2 linked regions of the Homo sapiens genome follow. The protein of the gene in region 2 interacts with the protein of the main gene of each other region in a biochemical or structural test. Each region holds a gene or a part of one and is shown on either strand. Other genes may lie near its edges.

Region 1 (3,649 bases), on a different chromosome or scaffold from region 2:
GGCCAAAGCTGGAGCATCGCTTGAGACCAGGAGTTCAAGACCAGCCTGGGCAACATAGTAAGACCTTGTCTCTACAAAAAATAAAATATTAGCCAGGTGTGGTGGCTCATGCCTGTGGTCCCAGCTACTTGGGAGGCTGAGATGGGAGAATCGCTTGAGGCTAGGAGGCCAGGGATGCACTGAGCCATGACTGCATCACTGCACTCCAGCCTGGGTGACAGACACCCTGTCTCAAAACAAACAAAAAATTACTCTTCCTAAATTACCTCTAGTCTTGCCTTTGTCCTTACTCAGTAACTTCCAATGACTCCCTTTTGGCTACTCCATCAAATTTAAGCTCTACCTGGCTTTCAAATTCCTGATAAATTGTCTCCTCTTTACTTGTTTGGCTTTCTCATCCACTGTTCTCCAACATGTACCTTTCTCTCAGGCTGGCCAGCACCACATGCCCTATAAACACAATGCTCAAACGTGTCTGAAACTGCTTTTGTAGTTCCCTTCATCTAGAGTGCTCTCCTATTTACTGCCTGCCTATCTGAACTCCACCCATTCTTCTAGGGCTACAAACCCTTCCCTGACTGCCCTAGCCCTCACTGATTTACCTTGCCTATGACTCTGAATATACTTATAGCCTATTACATGGTCTAGGACTTCTTTATGCCATTCTGTGATACAGATGAGTACTGTACCACTTACAGCTTCACGTGTGTGCCCTCAAAGGAAAGCTTCATGTTTGTTTCACATTTAATGCTTATAACTGTGCTAAGCACAAAACTCATATGCAAATGAATATCAAGTTTTTCTACAAATCATTATTGGGAGAGCACAAGGAACACAGAGTACCTATATGTAGTATAGTCGGAAGGCAGCAGGACTGTGTGTCACAGCGCAATGTGCCACTATACAGCCATGTGAGCATGTTAAATCTCAGCCTTCCAATCCATAAAATGAAGATGGCATCTACCTCAGTAGAGTTGCTGTGAAGATGAGGCGCAGGGAATTAAAGAATACTAAATGTGGAAATCTTCCTTGAAAAATGCATAGTGCAAAATCAAACTGAAGTACTATTATTCTTCTCCACGACTATTACACTGTAGCAGCCCATAAAACCATAAGCTTGAATTTTCTTTTTAAATATACAATTTTGTGAGAAGGAAAAGCAAAAGTCTAGATTAATCTTGTACAGATAGTTAGTATGTTATGTTAAAATGGACATATATGTTAAATGTAACTGAAGTTTATCCATTAGTTTCTAATTGAATTTTCTAGTGATATGCCATGATGGTTTTTAATCAAGACCTACTGTTGTTCCAAGACTTTGAATGAGGTTCCCACTAAAAAAAAAGTCAGCAAGATACTCTTTATTTGTCTCCTAAAAAGTTTTTGAAAGACTATAGTCTCATCGTCAGGCCTGGCACCACTGCAGAAGCATCAAGATACTGGCGCAGGCAAACTCATTAGAGGCCACAAAAGGCCCAACCCTGCAGTAAGCCAAGAGATTTTCCTTGTGCTGGGCATATTTCAGGAAGAGACTGACGTGCTTGAGAACAGGAGCTCTCCAGCACACCTATATGATGATGATGGCTGTCAATCTGTTCTAAGCCACTGGATGCAGCAAGTCAGGACTGGGAAGCATTTGTTGATAAACGCAGAGATTGCTTAGTGAAAAAATGGAAGCAAATCTAAATATCCAACAATATGGGAATGGTTTAAAAAATAAGGAGACTGGCCAGGTGCACTGGCTTACGTGTGTAATCCCAGCACTTTGGGAGGCCAAGGCAGGCAGATCACCTGAAGTCAGGAGTTCGAGACCAGCGTGGCCAATGTGGTGAAACCCCGTTTCTACTAAAAATACAAAAAAATTAGCCGGGGTGGTGTATGACTGTAATCCCAGCTACTCGGGAGGCTGAGGCAGGATAATCACTTGAACCCAGGAGGTGGAGGTTGCAGTGAGCCGAAACTGCGCCACTACACTCCAGCCTGGGCGACAAGAGCGAAACTCCGTCTCAAAAAAAAAAAAAAAAAAAAAGGCAGGGGAGGGAAGGAGATAGATGGTACAAGATTACGTGGCCATCAAAAGAAGAGATTTAATGTCATGAAAAGATTTATTTAAGAGCAATGGGGGCTGGAGGGACGAGGCTGCACAATATTTTATTTCTGTAAAATATCCCCTAAAGAACAAACAAACCCGAACAGAAAGGTTACACCAAATGGTTAACACTGGTTCTGTCTCTGGGTAATAACATTATTATATCCTCATTTTCCTATCTTTTTAAATTTTCTTCAAGTATGTATTACTTTTTTAAAAATTGGGTACTATTTCTTTTTTTAAGAAAAAAAGTGTTTTTCTGTTTAAAGAGAAACCACTAGTGCAGATAAACAGCTATGAAAAATAATTCTAAAGGTACTCACAAAATAGGATTTTCTTCAAAGAAACAAAATCCTAAATCAGATAATAAATGCTGAAAATAGAGGATCTAGGAAACAGCCTAGCCCCTCTATCCCAATTCCTTCCCCAAGGGACATCTTTCTAGTCAGGGTCAAAATACTGAGAAGTTATTTCCCAGTGGCTAGAGCAGATATCCTAGGAGAAGAATCAAAAAAGAAAGAAAGAAAAGAAAAAGAAGACTACCTACTGCTAATCCATTTTTTTTTAAATAAAGGCAGTGCAAAGACAGAAAGGGTTGAAAATGACAGCTGTGGCCTTTAGAAGCACTGGCTTTCAGCTATGTTTTGTTTTCAAGGCAAAGAACATGCTCGATTCGAAAATAATAAGCTTTGAATTTAATAATTTGTTAGAAATTTCAGATGAAGACTCCATTATTATATGTCAGGAATTACCCAAGCTCTATACATATAAAATATACGGTGGGGTCTGCTTTTAGCAAGCCTTACATACACATCTGAGCTTCTAAAGAGAAAGTAGGTGATTTTTCTACATTTCCACATTATAACTTACCTGAATCTGTTTTCTCAGTGTTAAAAAGAGACATTAATAGCTATCAAATAAGATAATGAACATAAAATGCCCATATAGTGCTGGTTAGAGTAAAGGCTCATAAGCCATTCTTATTTTTTATTCTTAAGCTACCTCACAAAAATGTAACACATATAATCCAATGTGTGTTGAAATAACTAACAAAATGAAAAACTACCAAATTTCTAAGAACTCTTTGGATTATTCATTGAGAGGAATTTAAAAGAAAGCAGTGTAGTCCTCCCCTCAGAGAGCTTAAACTCTAGTGGTAGAAACACAAGAAAAGAGCACATGTATATCTATTACACATCAATTAAAAAAAAAAACAGCACACGTTTAAGGGTTACAATGCCTCTCCTTAGAAAGCCAACCAGACAGAACTAGAGGAAATAGGTTTAAAGGTAGCTAGGTCGTGACTTAAAAAGAGATGTTATTAATAAAGTGCATGTATGTTTTTCTAGATGAGATAAAAATCAAAGGCCAAAGCAGATAAAGAAATGAGAATAAGGAAGAAAACTGACAAGAAAATCTGAAAAATCTAGGCTCGAATGTTTCAATGGGGTAAGGAACTGATCACATATTCTGAACAGCATTCACAGATGTACCATTCCAGATAGAGCATCCACAGCACTGTACAGCAGAAGTTTTAGTTCTGGAGTCTCTCTGCTGAAG
Region 2 (3,649 bases):
ATGAGATAAACCATAAAGGTGAATTTGGGGAAATGTTTTTAAACAAACAAGCTACCACCACCCCAAAACTAGTGCCTTTCACGTAACGATTAACTTTGCTTGGTCGGAAACCAGCTCATCCAGAGACGCTGGAAGCCACTTCTCTAACGGGGCCAGTGGCGAATGTCCCAGCGGATAAACACACGTCCTGTGTCCTGGCCGCACACAGACACTCACGGTCCCTCTCACGACACGAGAGGACTTCAGCCAGCACATCTCTCACTTTCTTCTGAAGCGGTTACTTAGCTGGGCTTTAAATGAATCCTACACACTTATGCCAAACATCCCCCAGAAAAGACTCACACTGTGCTGGCTTCTGCGCAGGCGCCGGCCTGGCCTCACCTGGCTTCCGGCCGTCTCCCAACTCGAACCGCTCCCGCGGCGGCCGAGGCGGGCTGCGACTCCAGTGGCTGGCTTTCACTTTGTCGCTGTAGTCCTCTCTCATCGTTCGGTGATGTGCAGACACTGGCGCGCAGGGCAGAGAGGGAGATGGCACTAGCAGCACTGCCTTCCTCAAAAGGCCCCACCCGGCACAGCTGCCTCGTCTCCCACACCCGCACCTGGCAGACACACCCACAGCGTGCACAGGGTGCTGACAGCATCGGGGTCAGAGGCCAGAGGTCTCCCAGGAAGCCCAGGGAGAAAAAGCTCCAACCTGGAGGCCGTGAGCCCGAGGACCCAGGTGGACCTTCTAGACTGATCTTCACTGGTCAAAAAGGAAGGGGCGGGAGAAGATTCTGGAAAGATGGAGTAGGAAGCACTGGGAATCAGTCTCCCCACCGAGACAACACTTGCATCACAGGATCAGGCCTGTGCAACTACTGAGGTGCTCTGGAGTCTACTGAAGGTTTGCAACTTCAGGGGGAATCTTGGAGAGTAAACTGTGATTCATTAATCAACGTCACCGCTTCGCACATTAGTGGCTCCCACCTCACTCCCCGCTGGCAGGCAGCAGCCTGCATGCAGCTCGCCGGACCCAGGTGGGCAGACGGACACACACACCCGAGGTCAGTGTGATGACTGCGTGTCCCACCCCAGAGGCATGAAGAGGCAGCAGCCACGGCCACCCCCAAGCTGAAGGTACTTCCAGGGCATGAGCACCACGTCCCCCGTTGCCCCCTTCATTTCTCTCTATTCCCCCTTTAGGAGGCAGACACTTCAGGACAAGAACATTAAAAACATCTGTATTGACGGGAACGTTAAAAAGTGGCTGCACGTGACCAGGAAAAGGCTCAGGCTCAGAAAAGACCCGTGAAGACCCTGAGTTTCCACAACAGGCCGACCCCACAGACACAGCCCAGCACAACCAAAACAACAAGTGCACACCCTTGAGTGGGGACCAGGAAGAATCACATCATGAGAATCAAATGTCCATTTTTTTGACTAAGAAAAACACAAGAGAAACAAAGAAATAGGACAGTATGTCCCATTCAGAGGGGAAAAAAAGAAGCCAACAGACACGGTTCCTGAAAATCACCTGACGGTAGATGTCCCAAAGACTTTAGGGAACTGTCTTAACCTTCAGTTCCTCAGAGAACGAAAGGAAGATGTGGAGAAAGTCAAGAAAATGACGCGTGAACACGACGGAAATATCAACAGAGACAGAAGATCCAACAAGAAACCAGAGAGAAATTCCAGAGCTAATAAGTACATGCTCACAATAGACACTAAAAAGTAAATATTCACAACAGAAACTCACAGGCAGATGTGAGCAGGCAGAAGAAATAATCGGTGAGCCTGAAGACAATAAAATCACATCGTCTGAGGAAAAGAAAGCAGAAGAGACTGAAGAAAAGGGAGCAGTGCTGAGCGGCCTCGGGGACCCCAACAGATCTGTGGGAGCCCAGGAGGGAGGAGAGGAGCAGAGAGGGTATCTGAAGAATTCCTCAAAACCCCCACATTGGATGAAAACCGTAAATATAAACATTAGAGAGGCTCAGTGAACTCCAGGTAGAATGAAGTCAAGAGGCCCACAGGAAAACCCATTATTAAACAGTTGAAAGCCTAAGGCAAAGAGAATCTTCAAAGCATCCAAGGGATCCTCAATCAGGTCATCAGATTAAAGCATCCAAGGGATCCTCTATAAGATCATCAGATTTCTCATCAGAAACTTTGGAGGCCAGAAGACAATGGGCTGAAATAGTCCAAGTGAAAAGGAAAAACTGTCAGCTAGGCATGAGGGTTCCTTGAGCCCAGGAATTCAAGACCAGCCTGGGCAATACAGGGACACCTTGTTTCTACTGAAAAATGAGCCAGGTGTGGTGGCACACGCTACGCCTGTAGGTCCCAGCTACGCGGGAGGCTGAGGTGGGAAGATCACTTGTGCCCAGGAGTTCGAGGTTGCAGTGAGCTATGATCGCTCCACTGCACTCCAGCCTGGGCAACAGAAGAAGACTCTGTCTCAAAACAACAACAACAAAATTGTCAACCAAGAACCACGTATCCAGCAAACTTTCCTTCAAAGATGAGGGAGAAATGAGGATATTCTCAGATAAACAAAAGCAGAGGGAGTTCATTACTACTAGACCTAGACCTGCCTTGAAGAATAAGCTCCAGGGAGTTGTGTGGGGTGTAAGGAAAGGACGCGAGACAGAAACCGGAAGCTGGGTGAAGAAATAAAGATCTCCATTAAGGTGAGGACGTGGGTGACTATAAAAGCTCGTACTGGCCGGCCGCGGTGGCTCACGCCTGTAATCGCAGCACTTTGGGAGGCCGAGGTGGGTGGATCACGAGGCCAAGAGATCAAGAGACTATTCTGGCTAACACGGTGAAACCCTGTCTCTACTAAAAATATAAAAAAATAGCTGAACATGGTGGCGGGTGCCTGTAATCCCTGCTACTCCGGAGGCTGAGGCAGGAGGATCACTTGAACCCGGGAGGCAGAGGGTGCAGTGAGCCGAGATCGCGCCACCGCACTCCAGCCTGGGGGACAAGAGCAAAACTCTGCCTCCAAAAAAAAAAAAAAGGCAGGGGCGAAAAGCAAGCACCGGAACCAAGCGCCCGCCTGTGACAGCAAGTGCCCAGCACCAGGGGGCAGCAGACACGCGTCCCGCCGAGCACAGCTGCCCACCGCGCCGCCTACCTTCCCTGCGGGCCTCCCGCTCCTTGCGCCGCTCCTCTGCCCGCCGCTCGCGCTCCTTCTGCTCCCGCTGCTCCTTCTGCTGCTCCCGCATCTTGCGCTCCCGCTCCCGCTTCCTTTCTAACTGCTCCAAGCGGTCCCTGAAGAGGCACACGCCATCATTCCCCCTAAACAGAAGCTTGCTTATCGCGTTTTTGTCCACATTTGTAAACTGGCTTTCTACGTAATTCAATCCGTGAAGTTTTTTTTTCATTTTTTTATTTTATTTTCTTTGAGACGGAGTCTTCATCTGTCCCCCAGGCTGGAGTGCGGTGGCGCGATCTCGGCTCACTGCAACCTCCGCCTCCCGGGTTCGAGCGATTCTCCTGCCTCAGCCTCCCGAGTAGCTGGGATTACAGGCGTGCGCCCTGTACTCCCAGCTAATTTTTGTATTTTTAGTAGAGACGAGGGTTTCACCATGTTAGCCAGGATGGTCTCAATCTCCTGACCTCGTGATCCGCCTGCCTCCGCTTTTCAAAGTGCTGGGTTTAC

The links. Proteins that work in one complex are often made in the same cells at the same time.
Region 1: the proteins of CDK11B (region 2) and YWHAB form a complex in vitro, tested with the Homo sapiens proteins (one study listed by BioGRID).

Annotation. Positions count from the first base shown.
Region 1 is NC_000020.11:44,892,075-44,895,723, reverse strand, and holds part of YWHAB (14-3-3 protein beta/alpha), read right to left. Parts: intron 1-3,649. UniProt on the Homo sapiens protein: Adapter protein implicated in the regulation of a large spectrum of both general and specialized signaling pathways. Binds to a large number of partners, usually by recognition of a phosphoserine or phosphothreonine motif.
Region 2 is NC_000001.11:1,642,005-1,645,653, forward strand, and holds part of CDK11B (cyclin-dependent kinase 11B), read right to left. Parts: intron 3,286-3,649; coding exon of another isoform or gene 3,259-3,285; coding exon 3,122-3,258; intron 505-3,121; coding exon 382-504; coding exon of another isoform or gene 343-381; intron 1-342. UniProt on the Homo sapiens protein: Plays multiple roles in cell cycle progression, cytokinesis and apoptosis. Involved in pre-mRNA splicing in a kinase activity-dependent manner. Isoform 7 may act as a negative regulator of normal cell cycle progression.